Regions from separate parts of the Homo sapiens genome. Here regions 1 and 3 are each linked to region 2. The links come from fine-mapping of genetic effects on gene expression. A gene starts in region 2. Each other region holds a variant in brackets. All regions are shown on one strand. Distances are from middle to middle. Region 1 has its middle 70 kb from the start of RIOK1. Region 2 holds the start of DSP (desmoplakin). Region 3 overlaps RIOK1 (RIO kinase 1).

What was found. PIP is the estimated chance that this variant, and not a neighbour inherited with it, causes the effect.
Region 1: its variant is the best candidate, but not a certain one, in a credible set for the expression of DSP in whole blood (TOPMed, PIP 0.77).
Region 3: its variant is the best candidate, but not a certain one, in a credible set for the expression of DSP in esophagus muscle (GTEx, PIP 0.50).

The regions. Positions count from the first base shown.
Region 1 is chr6:7,454,577-7,464,833 of GRCh38, reverse strand. No RefSeq gene overlaps it. Among named protein-coding and RNA genes, the nearest start is that of RIOK1, 70 kb to the right of the region's middle. RefSeq lists enhancers at 1-925, 8,257-8,876. The variant G/A (reference allele first, on the strand shown) is at 5,788.
Region 2 is chr6:7,537,661-7,547,917 of GRCh38, reverse strand. DSP (desmoplakin) reads right to left here and starts at 6,247. Exons shown (of 24, transcript NM_004415.4): 1 at 5,833-6,247. The coding sequence starts at 6,002. It overlaps DSP-AS1 (DSP antisense RNA 1), which reads left to right and starts at 4,835. Exons shown (of 2, transcript NR_183331.1): 1 at 4,835-4,872; 2 at 6,865-7,467. RefSeq lists an enhancer at 8,259-10,257.
Region 3 is chr6:7,408,102-7,418,358 of GRCh38, reverse strand. RIOK1 (RIO kinase 1) reads right to left here. Exons shown (of 17, transcript NM_031480.3): 13 at 7,908-7,973; 14 at 6,908-7,027; 15 at 5,417-5,470; 16 at 3,969-4,121; 17 at 322-1,028. The coding sequence ends at 918. Among named protein-coding and RNA genes, the nearest start is that of RIOK1, 23 kb to the right of the region's middle. RefSeq lists an enhancer at 4,696-5,466. The variant A/C (reference allele first, on the strand shown) is at 6,761.

The DNA.
Region 1 (10,257 bases), 83 kb after region 2:
TTGCCTATTCTGGACTTTTTATATAAGTAGAATTATATTTTCATTTTCTTCACAAATTCCTATAACCTGAAATGTAACACATCACACACCTTTTTGTAAATATTGGGAAATATTTCAGCATTTTATTGGTACCTATTTTAATTTAAATTTCCATTTCCCTAATTGCTAGCTAAGTCCAGCAATGTTTTCAAATGTTTATTGGCCATTTGGAATTTTTTTTTTTTTTGTGGAGACAGGGTCTTACTCTGTCACCCAGGCTGGAGGCACAATCTCAGTTCACTGCAACCTTTGCCTCCCAGGCTAAAGTGATCCTCCCACCTCAGCCTCCCGAGTAGCTGGGACTACAGGCCCACACCACCACACTGGGCTACTTTTTGTATTTTTAGTAGAAGCAGGATTTCGCCATGTTGGCCAAGCTGGTCTCGAACTCCTTACCTCAGGTGATCCACCTGCCTCAGCCTCCCAAAGTGCTGGGATTCCAGGCATGAGCCACCGCACCCAGCCTCCTCTTCTATAAACTGCCAATTTACATTCTTTTATCCAATTTTTGATAGGATTGCTTACCTTATCCTTATTTGTAGGAATTAGCTAATTAATCATATATTAATCCTTTTTGGTTATATATGTTGTAGTTCTTGTTGGAACGCCATCCTCCCTGGAGTTCTCAGTGTTCCTGAAACTTCTGGACCTTTCTGAGAAACAGAGAGTGACATGCTAAAAAGATAACGAATGCCTCCTTTTCCCCAGAACCATTTGCTTGCATTCCAAAGGATTGTAAAACCCCAGAGACCTTCCTCTCCTTTCTCCGGAATGGATTTGTGTTTGCCTTGGAGATCAAAGGTCTTTCCCTCCGCCTCCAGAGTGAGTGAGAGGCCCAGACATGCCAGCAGCATCTGGCTGTGCTCTGAGATGCATCATTTCCAAGCTCTTGCCTGTGGCACAGAGGCCTGTATCTGCAGGGTACATCTGGGTCACACTGTGCTGCCCTGTGGGAAACTGAGGGATGGGGAGTTGGCAATCAGACTGCTATTCGAGCAAATAATTGGTCTGTTTTCTGATCCAGAAACTTTGTTTCCAGACAGGATAAATCAATGAATATAGATATAAAAACCAAACAGATGTCTTCTCCTAGTCCATAGCTTGTCTTTTCCCATTGTTTGTGTTGTCTTTTTTAAAATATTGTGGTAAAATATATATACATAAAATTTACCATCTAAACTTTTTTTTTGAAACTCACTCTGTCACCCAGGCTGGACTGCAGTGGCACCATCTTGGCTCACTGCAACCTCTGCCTCCTACGTTCAAGCGATTCTCGTGCCTCAACCTCCTGAGTAGCTGGGACTACAGGCCCACACCAGCACACCTGGCTAATTTTTGTTTTTTTAGTAGAGGTGGAGTTTCACCATGTTGGCCAAGCTGGTCTTGAACTCCTGATTTTCCACCCGCCTCAGCCTCCCAAAGTGCTGGGGTTACAGGCGTGAGCCACCGCACCCGGCCTTAACTATTTTTAACTGCACAGTTCAGCGGCATTATGTACATTCACAATTTTGTGCAACCAACACTACCACCCATCTCCCGAATTTTTTCTTCTTCACAAGCGGAAACTGTCCCCATTAAACACTAACTCCCCTTTCTCTCCTCCCCAGTCCCCTGGCAACCATCATTCTACTTTCTGTCTCTATGAGTTTGACTACTGTAAGGACCTGATCTAAGTGGAATGACAATATTTGTCCTTTTGTGTCTGGCCTTTTTCACTAAGCATAATTTCCTCAAGGTTCATCCATGTCGTAGCCTGTGTCAGAATTTCCTTGCTTTTTAAAAAAGTTGTGGCAAAATATACATCACATAAAATTTATGTCTTAATCATTTTGAAATGTACATTTCAGGGGCATTAAGTACATTCGCATTGTGATGCTACCATCACCACTAGCTATCCACAGAACTCCTTTTCATGTTGCAAAACTGAAACTGTTAACATTAAATAATAACTCCCCATTCTCCCTTCCCCCCAGCTCATTTCTTTTTAAGGCTGAATAATTTTATTTTTATTTTATTTTTTTAGAAACAGAGTCTCTCTGTTGCCCAAGCTGGAGTGCAGTGGTGTGATCATAGCTTACTGCAGCCTTGATCTGCCCCGGTCCAAGCAGTCTTCCTGCCTCCGTCTCCCAAGTAGCTGGGAATACAGGTGTGCACCAACACACCTGGATAATTTTTTTTTTGAGATGGAATCCCACTCTATCACCTGGGCTGGAGTGCAGTGGCATGATCTCAGCTCACTACAACCTCTGCCTCCCAGGTTCAAATGATTCTCTTGTCTCAGCCTCCCGAGTAGCTGGGATTACAGGTACCTGCCACCACTCCTGGCTAGTTTTTGTATTTTTAGTAGAGACGGGATTTCACTGTGTTAGCCAGGCTGGTCTCAAACTTCTGACCTCAAGTGATCCACCTGCCTTGGCCTCCCAAAGTGCTGAGATTACAGGCGTGAGCCACTGCACCCGGCCTAATTAATTTATTTTTTTGTAGAGAGGGGCCTCCCTATATTGCCCAGGCTGGTCTCAAACTCCTGGGCTCAAGCGTTCCTCCGGCTCGTCCTCCCAAAGTGCTGGGATTACAGGTGTGGGCCACCGTGCCCAGCCCCAAAGCTGAATATTAAATCTATTGTACACGTATAGAACATTTTGTTTATCCATTTATCTATTAATAGACAGACATGTGGGCAGCTTCCACCCTTTGACTATTGGGAATAATGCTGCTATAAAAATTGGCATACAGTATCTGTTTGAGTTTCTGCTTTTTTTTTTCTTTCTTTCTTCTGAAATAGGGTCTCACTCTGTCGCCCAGGCTGGGGTGCAGTGGTGTGATCACAGCTTACTGCAACCTCTGCTTCCTGGGCTCAAGTGATCCTCCTCAGCCTTGTTTATGCTGTCTTTTAACAAAAATAAATAAATAAAATAAAATAATATTAACACATTTACTTTTTCTACCCTTCCTTGATGGTCTGTGCTTTTTACGTCCCGTAAAACATCATTTTTAAATGTACCACGCTTGCTCGGATGGCCTGCCTGGTTTCTGGTTCCCATTGCCCCATAGTCATAATGCTGAGACTATTTACCCCCACCTCAGGATCTAGACCAATGCTGGCTGAATCACAGCATTGCCCTCACAGCCATGAGCCCATTGGCAAACACAGAGCTCATTAGCCACAGAGTGGCTAGTCACACTCAAGCCTCCATTCCTGGGTCCACTAATCAGCCTCTCCTGACAGCATTCCTTGGGTCCAGCCCTAGTCAAGTAACTCCGATGTCAGGCCCGTTGCTCTTAGCTGAGCCTGTCTGTTCTCAGGGGTTCTTCTAATGAATGGAGTCTTGTACCTGAACTCAATCCCAGGATTGAGTGTGGTTGTTTCCTGTGCCTGGACCTCCACAAGCCCTCTTCAGATCATGATTGTCTGCATTCTACTCACCTGCCAGGACCTTCTCCAACTGCTTGTGCCAGAGATCTTTCCTAAGCCTACTTCCTGGGTCAGGGAGGTTTAGGTGACCAGGGTCCTGGGGTCACAGCCTCCTCCCCAGTGCTGTTTAGACTATAACTAGAGGTGCCGACATTCTTCATGCGCACAAAATCATCATAGTCATTCCACAATTTGTATACAATGTACTATGTGCCAAGCACTGCTTGGATGCAGGCAGGTAAGACCCACACCCTCACGGTGCTTACAGCATGGTTGATGCCAAAATAATTCACTGGGAGGTCATTAGGCTGAGAAGACTCCAGCACCTTGGGTTCCTACCTAGCAAACTGAAACCCAACTCCCTGTAAATGGTCATATTCTAGGCATCACAAACTGCCAACTAACCTCTAACAAGATTTTACACAGAAATGAATTTATTTGTTTTGCTTCCGTGTTCACCCTGTAAAAGCCTTCCCCTAGTACCTCTTTGAGGGAAGCCCCAAATTACCTGTGGTCTTTGAACTGCCAGATTCATGAATTACCGTTTGCCAAATAAACTTTTTTTTTTTTCTTTTTTTGAGACGGAGTCTCGCTCTGTCGCCAGGCAGAAGTGCAGTGGCACAATCTTGGCTCACTACAGCCTTTGCCTCCTGGGTTCAAGCAATTCTCCTGCCTCAGCCTCCCGAGTAGCTGGGATTATGGGCACCCGCCACCGCGCCCAGCTAATTTTTGTATTTTTAGTAGAGACGGGGTTTCACCATGTTGGCCAGGATGGTCTTGATCTCTTGACCTCATGATCCACTTGCCTCGGCCTCCCAAAGTGCTGGGATTATAGGCGTGAGCCACCACACCTGGCCCAAATAAACTTTTTAATATTTTAGTGTGCTTCAGTTTACCTTTTAACATTGAAGATCAGAGAATAAATAAGTAAACAAAAGAAATTGTTGCAATATAGGCTAAGGCTGTAATGGTTCTAAACAGGTGATAGGCTAGAGAATCACTTGGCCACGGAAATGCTGAGTCTAAGGTGTTTGGGGAATGCCTCTTTGAGGAGAAGATATGAGATCTGAGAGCTAAAGGTGGGGAAGGAGCTGGAGGAGGAGCATGCTAGGCAGAGGCTGACAGCAACTGCAAAGGCTTTCAAAGCCAGCAGGAGAGTCAACGTGCTGCTGCCTGGGCCGAACCACAGCTCCCAAGCCTATGCCAAGGAGCCCCAGTTCACCAGCAGTGCAGCCAGCTTTGCGATCCCCATGGCACTGCCTCCTTGTTTGAAGGCCCCTCATCTTCACCTGGCCCTCCCAAGATCTCATCTCCAAGGTGGGCCTCAGCCAAGCGGCCGTGACCATTGCTGTTTCCAAGAAACTAATTCGACAAGATTTTAGGAGCTAATAGATGATCAGCCTTAACGATGCAAATGTAAATAAGCAAAAGAATTGAAAGCAGGCCCAAGGCAGTGGCTCATGCCTTAACCCTAGCACTCTGGGAGGCCAAGGCAGGAGGATCGCTTGAAGCCAAGAGTTGGAAACCGGCCTCGGCAACATAGTGAGACCCCATCCCTACAAAATAAGAAAAATTAGCTGAGCATGGCAGTGTGCCCCTGTGGTCCTAGCTACTCAGGAGGCTGAGGTGGGAGGATCACTTGAGCCCATGATCACACGACTGCACTCCAGCCTGGGCGACAGAGCAAGACCCTGTCTCAAAAAAAAAAAAAAAAAAAAAATTAAAAGCAGAGTCTTGAAGAGATATTTGTCCACTGATGTTCACAGCAGCATTCCTCACAGTAGCCAAAAGATGAAAACAAGCCAAGTGTTACACATAGACAGTACCGTATTCAAAATGTAATACTGAGATGTTTCAGACTATAAAAGGAAGGAAATTTTTTTTTTTTTTTTGAGACGGAGTCTCGCTCTGTCACCCAGGCTGGAGTACAGTGGCACAATCTTGGCTCACTGCAACCTCCGACTCCCTGGTTCAAGCGATTCTCCTGCCTCACCTCCTGCATAGCTGGGATTACAGGCACACACCACCATGCCCAGCTAATTTTTGTATTTTTAGTAGAAAAGGGGTTTCACCATGTTGGCCAAGATGGTCTCGATCTCCTGACTTCATAATCTGCCCACCTCGGCCTCCCAAAGTGCTGGGATTACAGGCGTGAGCCACTGCCCCCAGCAGGAAATTCTTATAGTCTACAACATGGATGAATCTTGGAGAACATTATGCTCAGTGAAATAAATCAATCACAAAAGGACAAGTACTGTATGATTCTACTTATATGAGGTTCCTAGAGTAGATTCATAGAGACAGAAAGAATTGGTGTTGTCAGGGGCTAAGGGGAG[G/A]AGGAATGGGGAGCTATTGTTTAATGGGTACACATTTTTGGAAGATGAAAAAGTTCTGGCAATGGAGGGTTTTGATGGTTGTACGGCAGTGTGAATGTACTCAATGCCACTGTCTTCTGAGAACCGCAAAAACTCTCGGCCTGAAAAACTTCATCTAAATCTGTCTCTTGAGAGCTTTGACCAAACTCTGACATGGCTTCTAGCAGCCTACAGCCTGAGCTCTGGGAAAATCCAGCCCCCCTTGAGTTCGTCTGGAAAAACTCAAGGTTGACAACTGATCTGACTGTTCCAGGCACCTGATGATAGACCCCTGACCTCCCTTTCTTAGAAAGACTGATTTTTTTTTTGAGACAGGGTTTCACTTTCGTTGCCGAGGTTGGAGTGCAATGGCGTCATCTCAGCTCACTGCAACCTCTGCCTCCCAGATTCAAGCAATTCTCCTGCCTCAGCCTCCCAAGTAGCTGGGATTACAGACGCCTGCCACCACACCCAGCCAATTTTGTATTTTTAGTAGAGATGTGGCTTCACCATGTTGGTCAGGCTGGTTTCAAACTCCTGACCTCAGGTTATCCACCTGCCTTGGCCTCCCAAGGTGCTGGGATTACAGGCATGAGCCACCATGCAGAGCCCTACAGTGCCCTTTCAGCATTGCCATCTGTAGATGGATGGCATAGGTGTTAACCAGTTCAGTGGATCCTCTGCTTTTTTGCAAAGGCAGAGAGCCAGTGTGACAGCTTTCCGTATCCCAAGCTCTTGTCCAGTGTACCATAAGAATCAGGTCACACATGGACTTGAAGAATGAATGCAACCGTCTCATTGAGTGGTGGAGGTGGCTCAGCTGGATGGATTGAGAGGTGGAAGGACAGGACGGAAAGATGATCTTCCTGTGGAATTTTGCCGCCCAACAGCCAATCTCTTCTCTGACCATCCCCAGCCTAACTCCTCTCAGCATTTACATGCACTTTCTCTTTGCTCTGCCGTGCCATGCTGCCATTTGCTTATCTCCTTACCTGCTTCAGGAGCCTGGCATTTAGGATTTATATAGGTACAGGATAGGGGGTGTGGCAAGCCAAAAAACACCTTTTAGACATAACAGGAATGCCTGTCCTCATTTAGAAACAGCCACCCAGGATTGAGGCTGGGGCCTTACTAAGCATGGAACCTCCCTCTTCTAACCAGCACTTGGCTCCCATTTTTATCACTACTACTCAAGTAGGCTTATCAGACCTTTAAAATTGGGTCTGGAATTAGCAGGTTCTTGGTCTCACTGCCTTGAAGAACAAGACCACAGACCCTCACGGTGACTCTTACAGTTCTTAAAAGTGGTATATCTGGAATTTATTCCTTCTGATGGATGGATGTGCTCAGCTTCCTCCTTCTGGCAAAACACGCAGGAACAAAGCTAAAGACCTTATCCGTGTTACAGCTGTTAATATAGTGTAGCCAGAGTCGTTCGTTCTTCCTGGTGGTTTCGTAGTCTCGCTGGCTTCAAAAGTGAAGCTACAGACTTTCACAGTGAGCGTTATAGCTCACAAAGGTAATAGAAACATATACACCAACCTGCAGCAAGACATCACAAAACACACCCCTTCCATTATCGGCAAAGTAACTCAAAAGGGTCGCAACTACTGGTTTGGGCGCCTGCTTTTCTTCTCTTATCTGGCCCCACCCACATCCTGCTGATTGGTCCATTTTACAGAGAGCCGATTGGTCCATTTTGACAGGGTGCTGATTGGTGCGTTTACAATCCCTGAGCTAGACACAAAAGTTCTCCATGTCCCCACTAGATTAGCTAGTACAGAATGTCAATTGGTGTATTTCCAAACCTTGAGCTGGATACAGTGCCGATTGGTGCATTCACAATCCCTTAGCTAGACACAAAGATTCTCCAAGTCCCCACCAGATCAGCTAGACACAGAGCGCTGATTGGTGCATTGCCAAACCTTGAACTAGATACAGAGTGCCAATTGGTGCATTCACAATCCCTTAGCTAGACATAAAGGTTCTCCAAGTCACCACCAGATCAGCTAGACACAGAGTGCTGATTGGTGCATTTACAAACCTTGAGCTAGATACAGAGTGCCGATTGGTGTATTCACAATCCCTTAGCTAGACATAAAGATTCTTCAGGCCCCCACCAGATTAGCTAGGTACAGAGTGCCGATTGGTGCATCCACAAACCCTGAGCTAGACAGGGTGCTGATTGGTGTATTTACAATTCCCTAGCTAGACGTAAAGATTCTCCAAGTCCCCACCAGACTCAGGAGCCCAGCTGCCTTCACCTGGCGCATCCCGCACCCGGGCCGCAGGGGGAGTTGCCTGCCAGTCCCGCGCCGTGTGCCCGCACTTCTCAGCCTTTGGGCGGTCAATGGGACTGGGCACTGTGGAACAGGGAGCGACGCTCATAGGGCAGGCTCCAGCGGCGCAGGAGTCCACGGCGGGGTGGGGGGAGGCTCAGGCATGGCGGGCTGCAGGTTCCGAGCCCTGCCCCGCGGGGAGGCAGCTAAGGCCCAGCGAGAAATTGAGCACAGCAGCTGCTGGCCCAGGTGCTAAGCCCCTCACTGCCCCGGGCCGGCGGGGCCAGCCGGCCGCTCTGAGTGAGGGGCCCGCCGAGCTCACGCCCACCCAGAACTCGCGCTGGCCCGCAAGCGCCGCGCAGCCCCGGTTCCCGCCCGCGCCTCTCCCTCCACACTTCCCCGCAAGTTGAGGGAGCTGGCTCTGGCCTTGGCCAGCCCAGAAAGGGGCTCCCACAGTGCAGCGGTGGGCCGAAGGGCTCCTCAAGCACGGCCAGAATGGGCGCCAAGGCCGAGGCCCCGAGAGCGAGCGAGGGCTGTGAGGACTGCCAGCACACTGTCACCTCTCAAAATTAAGAGTGGTTGGATGCAGTGGCTCATACTTATAATCCCAGCACTTTGGGAAGTCAAGGAGGACGGACTCCTTGAGGTCAGGAATTGGAGACCAGCCTGGGGAACATAGCAAAACCTTGTCTCTACAAAAAACACAAAAATTAGCCAGGTGTGGTTGTGCACGCCTGTAGTGCCAGCTACTCGGGAGGCTGAGGTGGGGGGATTACTTGAGCCTGGGAGGTCAAGGGAGGCTACAGTGAGCCTGTCATCCAGCCTGGGTGACAGAGCGAGACCCTGCCACCAAAAAAAAAAAAAAGAAAATAATTTTTTAAAAAAATGTTTTTTGAGACAGAATTTTGCTCTTGTCGCCCAGGCTGGAGTGCAATGGCGCGATCCTGGCTCACTGCAACCTCCACTTCCCGGTTCAAGCGATTCTCCTGCCTCAGCCTGCTGCGCAGCTGGGATTACAGGCACCCGCCACCACGCCCAGCTAATTTTTGTATTTTTAGTAGAGACGGGGTTTTGCCATGTTGGCCAGGCTAGCCTCCAACTTCTGACCTCAGGTGATCCGCCTGCCTTGGCCTCCCAAGGTGCTGGGATTACAGGCATGAGCCACCACGCCCAGCCCGAAAGAAGAGATTTGGGGTACTGCTATACTCCAGGCACATTTGCACCCAACCGTGGGCGATGCCAGAGGCACAAGGGCTTTGAGTGATTGAGATTCATCCCAGCTGTAATTTCTACAGATACTGTGTTGTTCTATTGCTGTATAACAATTACCCCAAAACCAAACAGCTTGAAACAACAATAAACACTTTTTAGCTCACACGATTCCTGTGGATCAGGAAGTTGGGAATGGCTTGTCTAAGCAGTTCTGGCTCAGGGTCATTCATGAGGTTGCAGTCAAGAATCAACCAGGGCTGCTGTCATCTGAAAGCCTGGCTAGGGCTGGAGGACCTACTTCCGAGATGGCTCAGTGGTATGGCTACAGGCAGGAGGCCTCAGTTCCTCACATGTGAATCTCCTCATAAGGCTGCTTGAGTGTCCTCACAACGTGGCAGCTGACTTACCCCAGAACAAGTGGTTTGAGAGAGCGAGGAAGCTCCAATGCCTTTGTGACCTGGTCTGGGAAGCCACACATCCTCACTTCTGCATACTCTACTCATTGGCAGTCAGTCACCAAGTCCAAGCCAAACACAAGGGGAATTAAGCTCCACCTATTAAAGAAAAGAGTATCAAACAATATGCAGACCCCACAGGGACCAGTTTCTTTCTCATGCTGAGAGAGAAGAGGGAGGGAAAACGGGAGGAGGAGGTGCTAACGCTGACAGTGCTGAAGGTGGGGGGACAAACAGAGCCATCAGTGAGGCTGGTATCCAAACCACCAACCCTGGAATTATGCCTTAGGCCAAGTCTGGTGAGATACTTAGATGCTTGATTTCAAGAGCAGGAGGGAATCAGAAAAAAATTAGTGGATGGTAGTCTTCTTTATAGAAAAAATTGGGAACATATCAGAAGGTCTTGTAGGATAAAGCTATTAAAGACTTAATGAAATGCTCCAAAGAACACACAGAGAGAACAAGCGTCTGGGGATCACAAACACACAATTATTAAATACTGGTTA
Region 2 (10,257 bases):
GCGGGGTGATAAGAAAAAAAAGAGAAAGAGGAAAAGGAAGAAATGGATTGGGTATTAAGTGTGAGGCATTTCAGGAGTTCCTCAGGTTCCCTACAAGACTCAAAAATAACTGAGACAATTCACAGAGAGTGATACACTTTAGCAGCATGAAAGAAACTTATTGAGGGTAAGAAAATTCAAAGGCCAGGTGCACTGGCTCTTGCCTGTAATTCTAGCACTTTGGAAGGCCAAGGTGGGAGGATCACTTGAGCCCAGGAGTTCAAGACCAGCCTGGGCAAGATAGCGAGACCTTGTCTCTACAAAAAAAAAAAAAAAATTTTAATTAGTTGTGTATGGTGGCGCACGCCTGTGGTCCCAAGCTACTCGAGAGGCTGAGGTGGGAGAGTCACTTAAGCCTGAGTGGTCAAGACTGCAGTGAGCTATGATCATGCCACTGCACTCCAGCCTGAGCCACAGAGCAACACCCCATCTCAAAACAAACAAACAAACAAACAAAATGTAATTCCAAGCAGAACCTTTGATCTGTTTGCTGCAGCTTCTCACTAAACTGTCTTCATTTTCATGAAATGTAGATTTCACATTCATGAGCCCTTCCAGCCCAAGGTGTCGGTGGTGAGCCATAAATTATTGGACTGCACTAGTATTTTACAAGATGTCACCTCAAATGAGCAGCTCATGTCTGAGTCTTAGGATCTGTGGGGCCGTGACTTCAAAATCAGAACCACATCTGAACGTTTTCAAGCGGCAGGGCCACTGGGACCAGCCCAGCGGGAGGGAGATGGAGAAAATCAAGGGGTGAGGCACTGCTCCCAGCTGCAGCAACAAGGCCTCCAGACTGAAACCACTCCTTCTAGAACCTCCTGGTCTGGAAAGACTGGTTAGCTGAGAGTCAAGACACACTCTCCAAGTCTCACACCCAAGCCCTCCTTTGCTCCACCCTAAGAAGTCAGCACTGAGGCATCAGGGGCATCAGCAGTTTTTCCCTTTCCAAGACACTTCCATTACCTGAACAATGAAATTATGCCCATATTTAGAGAAAAAAATGACTGTTGAAAGCTGTATTGTCCCATTAAATAGATCTGACTAACAATTAGTTGGCTTAATGCAGAATCAAATTGAGTTTCTTTTTTCCTAAGCAGATAGAAACTCTACAAGAGTATTAATGAAAGAATACAATGATTATGAAATATTTCACAGGAACGCAGACTGAGGAATTCAACAGATTAAAAATAAGTAATAACTCAGATAGAAAAGGGTTTACAAGTAGAAAAGGTGAATTCTCACACTGCAGGTTTAATCTTCTCTTGCGTCATTGTGGTATACTGGATTCAAATCTAGCTTAACAACTTAACTAGCTGTGTGACCTTAGGCAAGCCATTTAAATATTTTAACCTCAGCTTCCCATCTGTAAACTGGGAAGTTTGTTATGAGGCTTGAGATAACAAACATCCTATACAAGGCACATCACAGGTATTTGCTGGGTAATGGTAACTATTATTAACCACAGACCTGATATTTTTATAAAATATACAAGTTAAATTTAATAACCATGTAAATGTTACCTGCCGTATATTAAGCTAAACTAAATCTTGCTTTGCAATAATTTCCCAGAAAAGTGTTTAGACTATCTACGCTATGAGTCACTCGAGCTCTGGGCCTGTTTTCTCAGACTCTCCCTTGTCTCTCGCATCCAATTCTTAGCTGAAGCTGTCACTCCACCTTGGCAATACCTACTTTTCCATCCACTGCCCTCACCCTGGTTCAGACTTTCATTCCCTCCCTCCTTCACTGGTGCAATGGCTTCCTTAAGCCAACGCCTAAACAGTCCAGAAGCTCAGTTATGATCGTCTCACTTCCCTGCTCCTCCAATGGAGGAGACTTTCAATGGCTTCAGTGAAAACCTGCACCAGCTTCCCTCTGCCTATCCAAATCCCTCTCCGGGGCATTCAAGGTCTCCAATGCCTTGGTCAAAAAAGGATGCTTCTTCCTTTCATCTTACTGCCTCCCTGCTCAGAGAGAATGCTCTAAAAGGAGATCACTCCACAGGCTTCGCAGACTTTTCTCATGCTCTTCTCTCCCTCTGGAAGGCTCTCTGCCCACCCATCCTGACACAGCTGAAATACTCCAAAGTCTAGTTCGACACCACTTCCTTTATAAAGTCTTCCCAGTGCCCCCACGACAGATGTTCTCTCACCTCCTTGTGAAGTCTCTGAAGTCACGTACACCCCTCCTGTGCATTCCGCTTTTGCGTGCTAGTCTTCGTGTACTTATCTTCCTTGGAAGGGCCTACACTCCTTTCAAGGCTATAGATTTCCACCTTGATCTCCCCTGACACTTAACACAGAATGCAGTCAATGCTCGGTAAATACTTGCTGAATTAAGGAATTAATGGAATTTGAGATACTTGCATGGTGTAATTACAGGCCTGTCCATTCTAAAAGTCAGGCTGTGAAGGCACAGGGAAAACCAAGGTGAGGATCCTTGGGTCCTCAGGCCAACCCAGCCCTAAGTGGATTCTAGGATCTTCGGCACGTCCTCAGCTTCCTGTCTCTGAAGTGTGCGTGTGGGGTTTCTGCCTAGGCTAAGTGATCCTTAGGGGTCCCCCCGCTCTAAAATTCAGGCAAATTGACCTGTTTGTCTCATAGTAAGAAATAAGCTTCTCTTAAAACCTAATTTAAGACTAACTTTAAAATGTATATGAAATAATGATCACACGTATCTCAGTTTTGAAATCATGAGATCTGAAGAAAAATAAGCATTAATATTATAACCACATATTTCTGAAACTTAATGACTATTTTCTGCTTTTAATCCTCCCACAAATTCACCCTTTGATGGGTGAAAGAAAGATCTAACTGTGAGACTTTGTTACTTTGGTAACAAATTTCACTATTTATAATTTGTTTTAATGACAGGAATAAGACTAGAGTAATTCTGCTGTAATTGAAAACAGTATTAATATAATGTCCTATCCAAGAAGAATCCAAAATTTACATTTCAAAACATGTACATGTCTATTATTTCATTATCAAGGTTGTAACATTTACCAAATGTTAACAAAATTAAGTAGTTGCAGATTCCATTCAATCTAAAACAAAGACACAAAGAACAGGCAGGTGGTCGGGGGAAAAAGAGGGAATTAGGATACAATGAGATCTAATACTGTCCTAAAAACGGGTAAGTGCTGTTCGTGGAAAGGACAGAGAGAGAGAGAGATGTTTTAAAGTCATTTTCAAAGGAAAACTAAGAGTTGGGCCCTCCACACATTCAAATTTCTTTATTCAGGGAAGGGCTAGATACAAAACACTCATCTCAAAAATCACCAATCTATTAATAATTCAGCCATAAAGTAGCAGTTTTTGAAATAAATGAGTTTAAAGTCAACCAATAGTTTTTATACTAGTTTTCATGCTAAAAAAAAAAAAAGAAAGAAAGAAAAGAAAACCACAAAAACCTTTATTTAGAAAACCTTCGGGTCAGAAAAATACTTATGAAATTCTTAATCATCATTCACTTAGCAGAGAGCAGTGGCTCCCTTGGGCACAGAGGGCACCCTGCTTCTACAAAGTGCACGCCACAGCCAAACATATCCCTCCACACAAAACCAGAATGCCACCAGAAAAACTGCGACATGCCCTGCCTTCAGGCGGTCGCTATTATTTGAAAACGCAGAAGTCAGCATTTGTGGGCTATTTTGTAGTCAGTAGCACCACTGCAGGCTGGGTCAGGCTCGAGAGGAACCTCCATTGCCAGGATCCCCGGAAAGAATGACCGCCTCCCGACTCAAGCCCTGAGCTTGACGCCCTGCTGCCGGGCAGAGCAACATTAATGAGAAGAAAAAACATCCTTCCTCAAAGTCAGGTAATTTTTCACTTGGGTCTCTTTCCCCTTCCCAGAGAGATGTGAGACTTGACAAGTTTGTAAGTAGGCTTTAAGTTGGAAAAACAGAGCACGGGATGATACTACACAAGGAAAAAACATGGAGCCTGCCCAAAATTAAATGTTTCAATGGGGAATCCTAATAAAACATGTACCTTGATGCAGTTCATTAACCACTTAATTTATTAAAGTTTTACTCCCCTACAAAAGGTATAAGAAGCCAAGGGAGTGAAATATTCGATTAATAGTACTGATTATTGTCTATTTAAAAGATAAGAAATCCAAGCTAGCAAAAGCATAGTTATAAATAATAATCAAAATAAATACTTGGTTCATGAAAACGCCAAAAAGAGCTACTAAAGAGTCCTTCGCATTCTATTCTGACTTGGATTTAAACTGTGTGTAACCCACACATTTAAAGGATGTGCATCTCAAATCCTGGAGGACTGCGGGAGAAAATTTAAATTTCAGATTTAAATGGCTGGCAAAATTTTAAAACAAATGTAATGAAAACCCAAGTTTTCATTCCTTCTATTGCTTGGCACATTTTCCCTGGAAATCCCCAGACACATTTTGTTCAGGAAACAAAGAACTCCAAGATTGAGACAATTCTTTGCTAACTCAAAAAAAAAAAAAAAAAAAAAAGCGAAAATAGATTTTCAGGATGCCCCATAAATAAATAAATGAATCTAAGCAGAAAACAGGTTGCAACTCGAGTAGTCCCTGCCTTCAAAACTGCTTGCAAAACAAAACTCCCTGGAGCGCATTCAGGTTGCTCCTCCCAGGCCTAGGGCCACAACGCCTGGTAAATAACGTCCCGGCGCTCAGGGCCTCTTTCCCAAAAGCCCGACGTGGGAACAACTAGCAGGGGGCGGGGAGGTGGGGCGGGCTGCAAAACGCGCACGGCTCACGTGGGCATCTAGAGTCCAGCTCCCGAGACCCGGTCAAAGCAGGGACAGGATCTCTTCCCCACCCACCCAAATGACGCCCTCGGTCTGTTTCCGCTGGGATCCGGAGAAGCTGACCCTCTCACCGGGGGGTCTTCCCGGGGCGCCTAGGCCAGGGCGGGCCCCCAGCGTCGTCCTCTCCCACCCCCCCACTCCCCTGCCCACACATTCTGGATCAAAGCAGACATGCGGCCGGCGCTCTGCGATCCAAGGCACACTGGGGTCTTTCATCCGGTGTTTTTAAAAAGGAGGAAACAAAAGGCTCAGAGGCAGGGCCCCAGGTGCGCTCGCCCGCGGGGGCTGCGGCGCGGACGACCGAAGGTAACAGGCACGTCCCGGCCGAACTTCGAGACCCGGGCCCGGCAGCCGCCCCGGCGGGGAAGTTTCGTTTCCCGGACAGGGGAAGCCGAAGCGCCTCCTCGGGACAGGACCCCGCGCCGCCGGGACGCGCAGCCTTGATACAAACGTCCTTGGGTGGCCGAGGAGTCCAGGAGTCGTTGCAGTCGTGGTCTCGGGGTTACTGGGGATTGGGGGTGAGCCGGTAGAGACTGCGGAGCCCCGAGCACCACTCGGCCACCAGACAGGACCGGGGCCCCGCTCCTTTCCTCTTTTACTTTGATTACGGTTGGAGAGGTTGGGTTTTGTGGTCGCAGCCCCACCTCGCCTGACCTCCCATTCGCGGGCTGGGACAAAGGCGGCTGCAGCCGTGTCCAGCAGGCAGGGGACAGCCCCGCGCGGGCCCGACGCCCCCTCTGACCACCCGCCCGGGCTCGCGGGAGGGGAGAAAGGTACGACCGAGTCCCTGTTCGCAGGACAGGGGCCAACCTGTCCCCGCACGCGTCAGGACACCCGGTCCTGCTCCCAGCGCGGCCGGGAAGTTCTTTCGGGACCTGGGGCAAAAAAACCTTTCCACCTTCGGGACCCGAGTCTCCCAGTCGTCCAGAGGAGGACGGTCCCTCCCTGTCCCGCGAGCCCCGCAGCCCGCGCTCTCCGGGCAGGTACCCACCAGTAGCCGTCCGAGTTCTGGTCGGTGATCACGCCGCGCCGAGAATAGTACATCCTGCTGGTGCCCCCGCCGCCGCTGGTCACCTCGTAGCGCAGGTCCGGGCCAGACTCGGCGCGGATCATGCGGCCCAGAGTGTTGATCCGCGGGTGGGAGCCTCCGTTGCAGCTCATGTCGGCGGGCAATCGGGAGAGCGGCTCAGCGCCGAGGCATAAGCGAGGCGGGCCGGCGCGGAGAAAGCGGAGGGGGCCAAGGATAGGCGGACGGCCGGGGAACCGGGCGGGAGTGCGGAAGGCTCGCGAGGTCGCTGCTCGCTACCTGGGCCCTCCCGAGGCCGCTGCGAGCGCGGAGACGGCGACGGGCCGGGGGCAGGAGCGGGAGGAAAGCTGTGGCTCGGAGGGCGGCAAGGGCGCAGAGGAGCTGCGTCGGAGCTGGGTGTTGGTGTTGGTCGGCGGCGGAGCGAGTCTCCTCCCCGCTGGCACTGGGCGCCTAGGCCACACCTGGCCGGTTTCTTCCCAGGGTGGGGTGCGGCCGCCGCGCCTTCCCCGCCCCCCCGCGGGTGTCACCGACGCGCTCCGGCCGCCCCTCCCCACCTGCGCCCGCCGCCCGCGACTCCGCCCTGCGCCACCGAGGCCTGAGTAACACCGGGCGGGGCGGGGGCGGGGTCCCCGAGACCCAAGCGCCCTGGGCGAAGCCACCGCGGGGAGGACCTGCGCTCGCGGGGGCTGCTGCGCTCTGCGCTGGGGCCTCTCGGGCTGGGAATGCGTGGCCCGGCTTTTGAGGATTTCCTCGGTCCCCGGGCGGAAATAGCTGGAATGGAGGGGCCTCTCGATTGGAGACTTACTGGTCAAATATTTACTTTTGTTGATCACTGGAAACGCTACCTACCACGCATTGACTAGGACCACAGTGAGGAGGGAACGCTTTAGATGATAGAGTTTTGTTTGGGGGCTTTTTTTTGTTTTGTTTTATTCCAGGAATTCAGGAAATTGCCCCAGAAGTCCGATTTCTGATGTGTAAAACCTTTTTTTACAGAAAACCACGACTTCCTGGAAAAGTCTTCACCGTAAATATTAATCTCTTTGGCATGAAGAGGAAAACACTGCAGCTAATTTTTCATGGGATAACAAAAATATAAACTGCAATTTCTTTTATTTTTTCCCTTTCGATGGTCTTTTTAAACGAGGAGTAAAGATTTCAACGCCAGGTCCATTTTCCAAATTTTGTACCAGAACCTTGAGGATGCTTGTCTCTCGCGCGCTTCTCCGCAGACCGAACCCTCTCCGGAACTCAGAGCTGTTCACCCAAGTCAGCGGAGGAGGCCTCCTGGGACTTGAGCCTGAGGGTGGCGAAGAACCCTAGGCAGAGATCATCAACTTGGTACCGATGAGTGACGCGGAGCTTGAACATTCCAGCGACTTGCTCCAGGGCCACTCCCAGTTAAGAGGCTGAGTGTTAACTGCAAGAGGCTGAGTGTTAACTACGCCGTTGGCTCCAGGAACCGAACCGGGTTTGGATACAGACCCAGTCACACCATCCATGAAAAGCTGTTTCTATAATATGAAAAATTGTTAAATGACGCTTTAGTAAAAGCCATTTAAAGATCTTTTCTAATAAATTTTTCATCTTTCCAAACAATGCCGCTAATTACCTTCTGATACAGTGCGTTTCCAAAATGTTTATGAACTGAAAACAAAAATAAAAAACTACATTTTTATGTTGTAAAGGGAGTGGGGGGGACTTTCTAAAATTTGTCGTATTATAGCACTTCTCATGACAACTTGACCCTTTAGGCATAATTTTTGACAAAATGTCTTGTTCTTTTTCTTTTTACAGCTGAACGTCTTAAATTCAAGGAGTAAACACATATAATGAGATAAAAGTTTATCACTGTTAGCACAACCAATAATTTGCATCGTAGTCTCAATTTCCTCGAATCTTTAATAAAACCAAAGTGGTCAAGTGTTTAAATGATTATACAGATTGAGTACCCCTTATCCAAAATGCTTGGGACCAGAAATATTTTGGATTCTGGATTTTCTTGGATTTTGCAATAGTTGCATAGACGTAACGAGAGATCTTTGGGGATGGAACTCAAGCCTAAACATGAAATTTATTTATGTTTTCTATATGCCTTATACACATGGCCTGAAGGTAATTTTATACAATATTTTAGATAATTTTGTGCATGAAACAAAGTTTTGACTGCACTTTGACTGCAAGTCATCACATGAGGTCAGGTGTGGAATTCGCCACTTGTGGTCATCATGTCAGTGCTCAGAAAGTTTGGATTTGGGAGCATTTTGGATTTCAGATTTTCAGATTAGGGATGCTCAACCTGTACAAACACTGATCTATAGACAAGACGGTGGTTTTTCTCAAACAGAATCAATGGCTGGAAGTCAGCCTCTGCACAAACAGCCCATAATATCCATTGGTGGAGGAGAGAAAGACATGCATGGAGGGAAAATGTCAGTGCATAATGTACAACATTTCATTTAGGATGTTTTCCCTCTATGCATCTCATTTGTTCAGCAAATAATTATAACCTAGGATATGGAAATACTCTGCAACATACAAAGATAAATAGGGTCCAGTCACTGCCCTTAAATATATTATAGTAAAACTTTGATTTAAGAAATTCAGGGGCCCGTGCGGTGGCTCATGCCTGTAATCCCAGCACTTTGGGAGGCAGAGGCGGGTGGATCACTTGAGGTCAGGAGTTCGAGACCAGCCTGGCCAACATGATGAAACCCCATCTCTACTAAAAATACAAAAATTAGCTGGGTGTGGTGGCAGGCGCCTGTAATCCTAGCTGTTTGGGAGGCAAAGGCACGAGTATCACTTGAATCCAGGAGGTGGAGATTATATTGAGCAGAGATCGTGTCATTGCACTGCAGCCCAGGTAACAGAGCAAGACTCTGTCTCAAAAAAAAAAAAAAAAAAAAAATTCAGGGATTATTCTTCCCTAATGTGTAATAAAGAGGCTACACAATTGCACGGTAGAATTATCCTTTTAAAAAAAACCCACATATCTATTAACCACCCCCCCAGTGGTAACAAAAGCTCTTGTTAGCCAAGGGTCCCCTTACGGTCATAGGAACCAGGCTCCACACAGACCCAAACACCACCCAGACTCACAAAACTGTTCAATCTGCAGGCAAAACAGAGGAGGAGGCGAAGAGCCCACGCCACCAATCACACCTCTGGCTGCGTTGCTTCCTCACCCATCTTACTGCTTCCTGGGCTTTTCCAGGCATCCCCAAGAACACGAACGGCTTCCAGCTACCAAACATGCCTGCTCTAGGAAGACAGTGGCTTTCATTTATCTTTCTCTAAGGGTGATAAAGAAAGATAAGAGGATAAAATAAACAGATTGACATGCCCGACAGATGGAACACCCCCCACCTCAACACACACCCACACACATGCACATACACACACACACACATCAGTTGTCCAGGTTGGCTCATCACACAGTGAAGAGCGAGGATAACTTGCCCATAGTTATAATCTTAGTGCTACAATTTACTTATGCAAGAGCTCAATTTCTTCATGTGTATAATGGAAATAACACTTGCTCTGCCAACCTTCCAAATCCACAGTGAGGGTCAAATGAGATAAAATACGTGAACATTCTTGAACACTGTGAAACATATAAAGCTTAAGGTACCACCTGTTAAGCCAAAAGTTCTTTGCTGGATGCGAAATTTTAACCGTTAATGTTCCTGTCTTTATCCCACATGTAAATCAGTAAACCTCCCTCTTGGACACATTTAAGATGCATTCATTTAGAAAGCAGTTATTGAACATCTACCATGTTACACAACAGATTCAATGCTAGACACATGAAGATGAATAAAGCATGACTCTTTTTCTGCAGGATATCAAAGTCTGCAGTAGTAAAACAAATAATTACAATACAACATTAAGTATGCTATAATGAAGGTATATTTATAGAATTTTGAAAGCGCAGCAAAGAGGTTTAAAAGTAGCTTGTTTTCTTACAACTTGGTTTAAAAAATCAGAATCCAAAGTCTGGCAGAGTCTTCACTGGCTGACCTAAGGTCAGCTATTTTTTCCCTGCCACTCATAGATAGCTCCCCTTGTACTGATAAAACAGATCACTGACAGGCAACTTTCTCTCTGGCTGACCTTAGAAATCACCTTGCAGTTAGGAAAGACGAATCAGTCATATTCAGAGCAGATTTTTAAAAGAAAACGACACTTTGATTTCAGTGAGATTAAGAAGAATCATTTACTTGCTCAAAATCCCATGGGAACTCTCTATATCTTTGTGTTGGTAAATGATACCTCTTCATCACAAGAAGATTTATAGCCCATGAGTTAAAATAACTGTTCTGCCTAACAGAGGAGTAGTTCTGGGGTTTTTGTTTTGTTTTGTTTTGTTTGAGACAGAGTCTCACA
Region 3 (10,257 bases), 130 kb after region 2:
TCTTCCTTCTTGTTATGCAAACAATTCACCTTCTTCAAGTATTTGCTCAAATATCAGCCCTCAGTAAGGCCTTTCCAAGAACCCTATTTTAAACTGCAAACTCTTTCATCTATAGGCGCCCTCTCATCTCTGCATTATTTCTCTCCATAGAATTTATCACCTGCTGATACACTGCTTTTTACTTACTTTGGTTAATGTCTTATCTTCCTATCAAAATGTAAACTACTCAAAGGTAGTAATTTTTGTCTAGTTTGTTTTCTGCTGTATCCCCAGCAACTAAAATACTCAAATTTTTGATGAATGAATGAATATGCCAAATGATTGAATTGTAAAAAACTTTATGAACTGAGAGGTCCTAACTCCAAAAAGAACATTAAAGACGAAGTGTAAGAGCATTACAAATGATCGCCAATACACACAAAGGCAGAGTTGCAGTGAAAATCAACAGCCAGCTGAACTGTGGGTGAAATTCCCTTTATATAAACATGGCCTTATAATCAGATGACCTCAGATGGGTCTCTGGTGTGTACAAAGAAAGCAAAACCAATTTTCCCATGAGTGCCTCTGGACACTCATGTAAGAGTTACAGATGTTGACTACATTTAAACATTTATCATGCTTCCAAAAACATATTTGTAAGAGAAAAAAATATAAAAATAAAAATGTACAAAGTTCTTTATTAAAATAATAGCTTAAATAAATCCTCTGTCAACACCAGACAGAGTCAGTGACTGGATCTAGACTCTAGAGCTTAGAGCTTTTTACATAGTTACATGAAAACATTTGAATCCGTCTTCACAGACAGTGCCACGATGACAATCTGGTTAAAACCAATAAGCCATCTTCCAGATGCAGCTTAAGAGTTCAGGCGAGAAAAGGAACTGAGGAAAATGACTGTACATAATATGGTTCTCATTCTATTTGCCTTTTTTCGTCTTGGCTGTCTTCTCCTTTCTTTTTTTCACATGTTTAGGAATTTTGTTTTTTCTTTTCTCTCTCTGGGCTTCCTTGACCATCTTTTTTCTTTCCTGTAAAAAACAAACAAAAAAGCCAACTTTCATTCATTTGGAGTATGCATTTTTTGTTTTTGTTTTTTGTTTTTTGTTTTTTAGACAGGGTCTTGCTCTGTCGCCCAGGCTGGAGTCAGTGGCGTGACCATGGTTCACTTCAGCCTCCACCTCCTGGGCTCAAGCAATCCTCCCACCTCAGCCTCCTGGGTAGCTGGGACAACAGGTGTGCACCACCACACCTGGCTAGGTTTTTTTGGGGTATTTTTTGGTAGAGATGGGGCTTCGCCAGATTGCACAGGCTGGTCTCGACCTCCTGGGCTCAAGTGATCCACCCACCTTGATCTCCCAAAATGCTGAGATTACAGGCATGAGCCACTGCACCCACCTGGAGTATTATTATGATTATAACTAAATAAAATACACACATAGAAGAATAAAAGTGAGTGTAATGTAAAGAAAAGAAAAGAAAATGATTATGGGTTGGTGGAGGAACTTGGGGTGAAAACTGTCTTTCAGTTTTTTCTTTTTAGAGACAGGGACTCACTCTGTCACCCAGGCAGGAGGGCAGTGGCATGACCATTGTGCACTGCAGCCTCAAGCTCCTGGGCTCAAGCAATCCTCTTGCCTCAACCTCCCCAGTAGCTGAGACTACAGGCATGAGCCACCATAACCGGCCTTGAGCTTCCTCTTTTTTTTTTTTTTTTTGAGACGGAGTCTCTGTCGCCCAGGCTGGCATGCAGTGGCGTGATCTCGGCTCACTGCAAGCTCCGCCTCCTGGGTTCACGCCATTCTCCTGCCTCAGCCTCCCAAGGAGCTGGGACTACAGGCGCCTGCCACCACGCCCGGCTAATTTTTTGTATTTTTAGTAGAGATAGGGTTTCACCATGTTAGCCAGGATGGTCTCGATCTCCTGACCTCGTGATCCACCTGCCTTGGCCTCCCAAAGTGATGGGATTACAGGCGTGAGCCACCGCGCCCAGCTGAGCTTCCTTAATAGAAATGTGAAGACAGCCAAACAGAAATATCCCTAAGAATGTTATTAAATGTTTGCAAATACTTTTCTTTACAAGTTCCATATTCTAACAGAAATAGACATTGGAAAGAGACAAAATATGTGTTTCTAGTAGACATATGAGAAAATATGCTAGCAGCTGAGTATGTCCCTCAGAAGTCTTGGGACCCACATTGTATAAGGTTTAAAGGATTAGACTAAGATGGAATAATAATAGTCACATAGCACTCAGTCAGCAGTGTCTCTATGTCTATGGCTAGGGATTAAAGAAATACAAGAGTCCCTTCTTATCCATGGGGGATATGTTCCAAGACTCCCAGTGGATGCTTAAGACTGTGGATAGTGCCAAACCCTATATATACTATGCTTCTACCTATACATACGTACCTATGATGAGGTTTAATTTATAAATTAGGCACAGTAAGAGATAATAACTAATAACAGAATGGTAACAATATACTATAGTAAAAGTTATTTGAATGTGGTCTCTCTCTCCAAATATCCCACAGTATCATACTCATGTGACAGTAGCTTCTTCATTGGCAGATGCAGCCTCTCTGGTAATTTTTCTATTTTTTAGTCCAAACCTATTCCTGAATCTGTGTAACTATTCCTTACAGTAAATGGCCTGGTGGCACTCATTTCAGGGGAACCCTTGCTGAAACCTTTGAAACCTTCGTATAGGCTCAGTGCTTTCTGGTGCAACATGGTGCCATCAACTGGAAGATGTTTTTGTTTACGTCTTTCACCCACAAATTTCATGCCTTTTCCATCTTAACTAAGCAGTTATCACATGCTATGGTCCTAAGTTTTGCAGTTTGGGGTGAGACAGCAAAACCAGCACAAACATCTTTTTCCTTCTCCACAATGTCACGGATAAAAGATTCTCACCAGCAACTTCAGCATATGATTCTTTTCCTTTTATTTATTTTTTTGAGACAGAATCTCACTCTGTCACCCAGGCTGGCGTGCAGTGGCATGATCAGCTCACTAGAACCTCAAACTTCTGGACTCAAGGGATCCTCTTGCCTTAGCCTCCCAAGTATTTGGGACTACAGGTGCTCATCACCAATGTTTTAATAGAGACGGGGTATCACTCTATTGCCCAGACTGGTCTGGAGTGATCCGCCCTCCTTGGCCTCCCAAAGTGCTAGGATTACAGGCATGAGTTCCTTGTTAAGTCAAGAATGGTCACCTTTCCACTTAAAGGAAGCATTTTATGGCTTCTCTAAAGCATACCTGAAATTCCAACATCACTACTCCTGTAATTTACGGTCATTATTAAGCAAAGTAAGGGTTACTTGCACACAAGCACCACAACATCACAGCAGCTGAACTGATAGCCAAGAAGGCTACTAAGTGACTAACGGGTGGGGAGTGTCGACAGTGTGAAGACGCTGGACCACGTGATGATTCACATTCCAGGCAGGATGGAGGAGGACAGCATGAATTTCATCACACTACTTAGGACGGTGAGCAATTTAAAACTTATAAATTGTTTACTTCTGGAATTTTCCATTTAATATTTGCAAACCAAGGCTGACTGCAGGGAACTGAAACAGTAGAAACTGAAAGCATGGATGGGGGGACTATTATATGGTCTTTCAGATTCCAGAAACATCAAGCTGGGCTATAAATCCCCCTGAAATGGCTCTTCAGTATTTACCCTGGGTCAACTCTAACATCACTTGTACTTCATGTGAAATGTACTGAATTTAGTGCGTGCTCTCTCTAGGCAATGCCCAAGGTGCTCTGATGAGCAGCCCAATCTCAAGATAATGTTACCACCAAAAGTCAAGTTCACACTTAGGTATTAAAACTGTAATTAGAGGTACTTATCAATAATGTTTTCAGCCATCATAATCTAGCTAGATCCTTGAGCAAAGAGAAATAAGAGCGGCTGTGCTCCCACACTAAAGAAAAGGGGAAGGTATTTCATTGCTTACTTTTTTATCAATGTCAGGGTCCGTGGTGTGTTTCTTGGGGCGGGCATGGTCTCCCTGCTCTTCAGAGTCTGTGTCAGAGCACTCAGAGCTTCCAATATCTTCTGAATCAGAACAAGTCCTTTCCTCCACTTGATTTTCTAGGAGTGCAGGGACCTTGAAATTATTAAAGAACCATGTTATTCTAAACAACACACAAACCAAGTTATGTGTTGTTGTTAAATGTGTTAATGCCAGAATTCAGATTTTAGGCTCGCAAATATATGTTAAAAACTAACATCCTGTACTGAAACATCAAAACACCAGAATGAACATCAGGAGGGAAACATGAAAGTAGCCACTCCAAGTAAGGCTCCAGAACATACTCAAATGAAGGAACCAGGGCTTTACTGCGTGACCTAGATCAACAACAGAGCTGTTCTCCTTCTTTCAGCTAATCAGGAGCATTTAGTTGGGATTGGGAAAGAGGCAAAATATACATAGAGGTAGAAAATGAAGATTTATATGGATAACTTCACAGCTGTTTTCCTGTGAACCACATTTCTAGCAATAAACTAATCCAATTGGGAGGGAAAACAATATGTGAAGAAGAGAAATTTTCATTACTTCCTGAAATTCAGCAGTTGTCTAATACAGCGCTTCCTAGCAGTTTTTAAGAGTGAGGTTTCCCTTTTATAAGAAAAAAACAGATCTTTAGAAGTCAATTGTACAACAAGATTTTCTAGCTTGCTGCAATAAAATCTTCATGCTCTGGAATCCAAAGCATAACTTCCTTATGACACCTGTTATTATAACTCAGAAATGCAAAATACCAGAATTCCCCTAATTCAATTCTTTCCACAGAAAAGACATGATTTTAAGAAAGCAAACTGTGATCCTTTATTTAAGTCTTCAATTAGGAAGATTTAAAAAAATAAAGACTGCTTTTATGACTGCCTAAGTTAGAATTACTTAATCCCTGCCCTTCTAAAATGTAAAACAAAACAAGATTGTTTTAAGAAAAAAGAACATCACAGGAATCCAGCACAGCAGGACTTGCTGAACTCATGAGATTGTTCTTTAACAAGTAATACCCTGGTAGGAGACTACATTCCAAAGTTCTCCTAAGCTGGTTGTAAAACCATCAAGAAGCACAATGGCTATCATTAAGAGCTCCACAAATGACGACCAGGATACAAAAAGATAAATACCTCACCTGCAATCACTGAACAATTCAGAGACAGAAAGAAAAATAAATTAATTTCCAAATTTCAGTGCTGTGTTTAGAAAGAACACAAAAATGGCATTTCTGAAGATGTCCACAGACTTTGAAAGCAATTATAACATTTTAACAATATAAAATAACATTTAGTTCTAATAATATTAAATAATAATAAAAAACAGTATGACTAGAGTTTATATCCTTTAAAACTGTTTTCACATAAACAAACAGTAACACATGTTCTTCATACCTTCTGAACTCCTGACAAATCTTTCTTCAATCCTGTAACAGTCTGGTATAGAATCTTATAACCAAAATGAAAAAAAAAAAATAAGGATCAACATAAAACTAGACAATGAAATATGCATATTGCACTATTAAGAACAATGTGGGTTAAATAATGTCTCCTATGATTATAAAAAGGTATCTAAAATTAATCTCACTGTAACACAGGAAGTTTATAATATTGATATTATTTCTGTCTACCAGATCTACTGGCCAAATCCAACCAGCCACCTGGTAGTTGTTTTTTTTTTTTTTTGAGACGGAGTCTTGCTTTGTGGCCTAGGCTGGAGTGCAGTGGCGCGATCTTGGCTCACTGCAACCTCCACCACCTGGGGTTCAGGAGATTCTCCTGCCTCAGCCTCCTGAGTAGCAGGGATTACAGCTGCCACGATGCCCAGCTAATTTTTATATTTTTAGTAGAGACGAGGTTTCACCATGTTGGCCAGGCTGGTCTCGAACTCCTGACTTCAGGTGATCCACCCACCTCGGCCTCCCAAAGTGCTGAGATTACAGGTGTGAGCCTCCGTACTGGGCCTTTTTTTTTTTTGAGACAGAGTTCCGCTCTGTAGCCTAGGCTAAAGTCCAATGGCGCAATCTCAGCTCACCGCAGCCTCCGCCTCCCGGGTTCAAGTGATTCTCGTGCCTCAGCCTCCCCAGTAGCTTGGATTACAGGAGCACGCCACCATGCCTGGCTAATTTTTGTATTTTTAGTAGAGACAGGGTTTCACCATGTTGGCCAGGTTGGTCTCGAACTCCTGACCTCAAGTGATCCGCCCACCTTAGCCTCCCAAAGGGCTGGGATTACAGGTGTGAGCCACTGCGCCCAGCCTACCTGGTAGTTTTTACAGATAAACATTTGCAATCAATTTGAAGATAGCAAACACAAACTTTGAGCCCCAATTAAGTGAAATATTATCTGCCCCACATCAAATAATTCCACTCTTCTTTAGTATACTTGTATTACACAAAAGTGTATTCAACTATTATTAAAGTATTTCTAATTTCACGAATAAAAATTGAGGGTGAATTTTTTTCTCTCTTGTTACATAAGGACCTACGTAATCACCTCAATTTTGTTTCTTGGCTTGCAAAGCCTAAAATATTTACTATCTGACCCTTCACCAAAAAGAAATTGTTCCTGAATGATGTATGTTAAAGAAATATATGTTAATGGACCTAATATAATAACCATTAATAGCCTAGACTTCTATCTGAATCTTGTTTCTACAATTACAGCTTGTTGGATTCATTCAAATGTGTTACCTCCTCTCATAAATTCCAAATAATTCCCTTTGCGTTCAATGTGCAC[A/C]CAAGTTAACACAGATAGAGTTAGTCATTTCACTAGCTCAGAAGCCAATATTCAAGATTAGGGGAACTTAAAAGGCCCAGATAGGTTTGGGACAGTCCCCTACTACTTTTGAAGAGCTGCTTGCTATATACAAACCAAGCTACTTACATTATCTTGTTGGGCATTCATGGCCATGTCCTCTTCCTTCAATTTCATAATTATGTCCATATCCCTCTCATAATTTTTCACTTCATTCAAGGTTCTAGGAATATATGCTCGCTTAAACACCTAACAGAGAGGAAAAGCAAAATCAAAACTGTTATTCATACACTTCTCACATTCACACAGCATACTCCTCCATCAGGTTACAGGGGAATCTATATATTCATTCATCCCTAACACTGATGCTTGGCTAAGCTGTCTGCACACACTGGTATCCCATCTGTGATGTGGTGTCCCAAAAGTAACACTACTAATGATAGAACACTAAATTTTGCATATGATTTATTTTAAGGAAGGGAAAAAAAACATTAGAGCTGATTCAAGATTATCCTTAGAATAACACTTCTCCTTCATTTTTGTTCCAAAAAGCTTTTCTGAGCAGGAGGGAAAGGGGCGGAATTACAGTTGGCAAGCGCTGCCTGGCTATGCCTTACGAAACATACCCAGCTGCTACAGTGAAAAAGGTGGAGAGCTGCCGACAAACACAGGGCACCTCATAGTCAACCATTAAGAGTTGTGAGAATTTTTTTTAAAAGCCTACTATGGCTCCTTCACAAAAAAACACCCTGACTCGTTTTTATCAAAGCATAATATTTAAAATCTATAACATTTCTAGAATCAATATTTAAGTCATTTAAAAACTCACATTTGCAAATTAAAAACAGGCTTTTCCTTCTTGACGCCTATATCCTAACAGGCTCTTTAAAAATTTTCTCCATCTAGGACAATGGGCTAACAGGTTGCTGAGTGGACCAATACAGTGAAATGTAAACTATCCAACTTGGCTCACTTAAATCATTTACTATAATATATCTTAAGGAAATATTACCATCATTTGAAAAAGCTGCTTATCTATTTAAATCAAGTTTATGCTCTAGCAACATAAAAAAAAAAACCCTCAAAACACAAGTGTTTCCAAAGGCTGTGAATAGATAATAAATCCTACCTCTTCATCCACATGATCTTGGCTAGACCGTTCTTCCTTGGTCCTTTGAGATGCTATTTCCATGGCCTTGGAAAGAAAACAAAAATGACTTTCTTTTATATTCAAACTGCAGAAGGCACATCCATGTCCCAGTTTTGGTATAAAATTGTTCCAGTCTTTTTAAGTATCACCTCCTCACACTTAGGAAAGCATTTAGTGAGGTCTAATGGTACAAGTTAGCTTTCCAGCACAGACCTCACCAAAAAGGCTGCCATCAACCCAAAAGTAACAATAAATCAAACTCTTCTAGCCTAGGGGGATCCCTAGCCCCCCTTTTTCAAAAGTTATGCTACTTTTACTAAATTTAAATAATTAGCTTTTGCATTTAGTAAATGCTTTAGCATTTACTAAAGGAATACAGAGACCTAAAGAATGAAAGAACCATTCCTTAAATCCTGAGCAGTCGGCGAAGGGAATTGCAAAGGCTGGCTGTAAATCTTGAATATACGGCTTTATTGCTGCTGCACTGAAGAAAGCTCTCTGAGCAAACAATGACTGAAACGAGGGTGACAAAGATTCCAAAGGGTTCTTTTGGTTTGTAAAACTGAGTGTTCTCTTCTCTATATAGAAGAAAGGAAAAAATAGTGGGAGCAGAGGTTTTTTTTTTTTTTTTTTTTGAGTTTAGACACGAAAATCAGTGCTGACCCAGGCACAGTGGCTCACGCCTCTAATCCCAGCACTTTGGGAGGTGAGGCCAGCAGATCACCTGAGATCAGGAGTTTGTGACCAGCCTGGGCAATATGGGGAAACTCCGTCTCTACTAAAAATACAAAAATTAGGCCAGGTGCAGTCTAATTACAGGCTCATGCCTGTAATCCCAGCACTTTGGGAGGCTGAGGCTCACGCCTGTAATCCCAGCACTTTGGGAGGCTGAGGCTCACGTCTGTAATCCCAGCACTTTGGGAGGCTGAGGCGGCTGGATCATGAGATCAGGAGTTCCAGACCAGCCTAGTCAACATGGTGAAAACCCGTCTCTACTAAAAACACAAAAATTAGCCAGGCATGCTAACATGCACCTGAAATCTCAGTTACTTGGAGGCTGAGGCAGGAGAATCACTTGAACCCGGGAGGCAGAGGTTGTGGTGAGCCGAGATCGTGCCACTGTACTCCAGCATGGGTGAGAGAGCCAGACTCCATCTCAAACACACACACACACACACACACACACACACACACACACACACACACACACACACACAATTAGTCGGGAGTGGTGGTGGGCTCCTGTAATCCCAGCTACTGGGTGCCTGTAATCCCAGCTACTGGGGAGGCTGAGGCAGAAGAACTGCTTTAACCTGGGAGGCGGAGATTGCAGTGAGCCGAAATTGCACACTGCACTCCAGCCTGGGTGACAAGAGCGAAACTCCGTCAAAAAAATAAATAAATAAAAGAGGCCGGGTGCGGTGGCTCACACCTATGATCCCAGCACTTTGGGAGGCCGAGGCGGATGGATCACCTGAGGTCAGGAGTTCAAGGCCAGCCTGACCAACATGGAGAAACCCCATCTCTACTAAAAATACAAAATTAGCTGGGCATGGGGGCGCATGCCTGTAATCCCAGCTACTCGGGAGGCTGAGGCAGGAGAATCGCTTGAACCCAGGAAGCAAAGGTTGCAGTGAGCCGAGATTGCCCCACTGCACTCCAGCCTGGGCAACAAGAGGGAAACTCCATTTAAAAAAAAAAAAAAGAAAAAGAAAAAGAAAGTCAGTGCTAAGTTAAAAAGTTGAGGAATAAAAATGACACACTTATTTATTCCATTAACAGATGTGATTGCCTACTATGGGCCAGATATTGGGTACTTGGCAATAGAGAAAACTCCTGTTCCATAAAAGTTCATAATTGAGGGTGACAGAATTAGGGACTTAGTATAATAAGTGACACAGTGTGACTACTTCTATTATAGTTGTAGGAGACTACACCTATGAAAACAATTTCTGCTGAAATACCCCTCCAGAGAGCTTTCTAACTGGAGCTTTAAAGTTCACCAGGCGGAGCAAAGTTGAGCAAAGGCAGAAATGGGAAGGTATTGCAAGGAAATGGAAAAAGAGGAAAGGACAGGATAAAACCTGAAGACCTGGCCAGGCAAGGCGACTTATGCCTGTAATCCCAGCACTTTGGGAGGCCGAGGCAGGCGGATCTCCTGAGGTCAGGAGTTCGAGACTTGCCATGGCCAACATGGTGAAACCTTATCTCTACAAAAATACAAAAATTAGCTGGGCATGATGGCAGGTGCCCATAATCCCAGCTATTCAGGAGGCTGAGGTGGGAGAATCACTTGAATCCAGGAGGTGGAGGTTACAGTGAGCTGAGA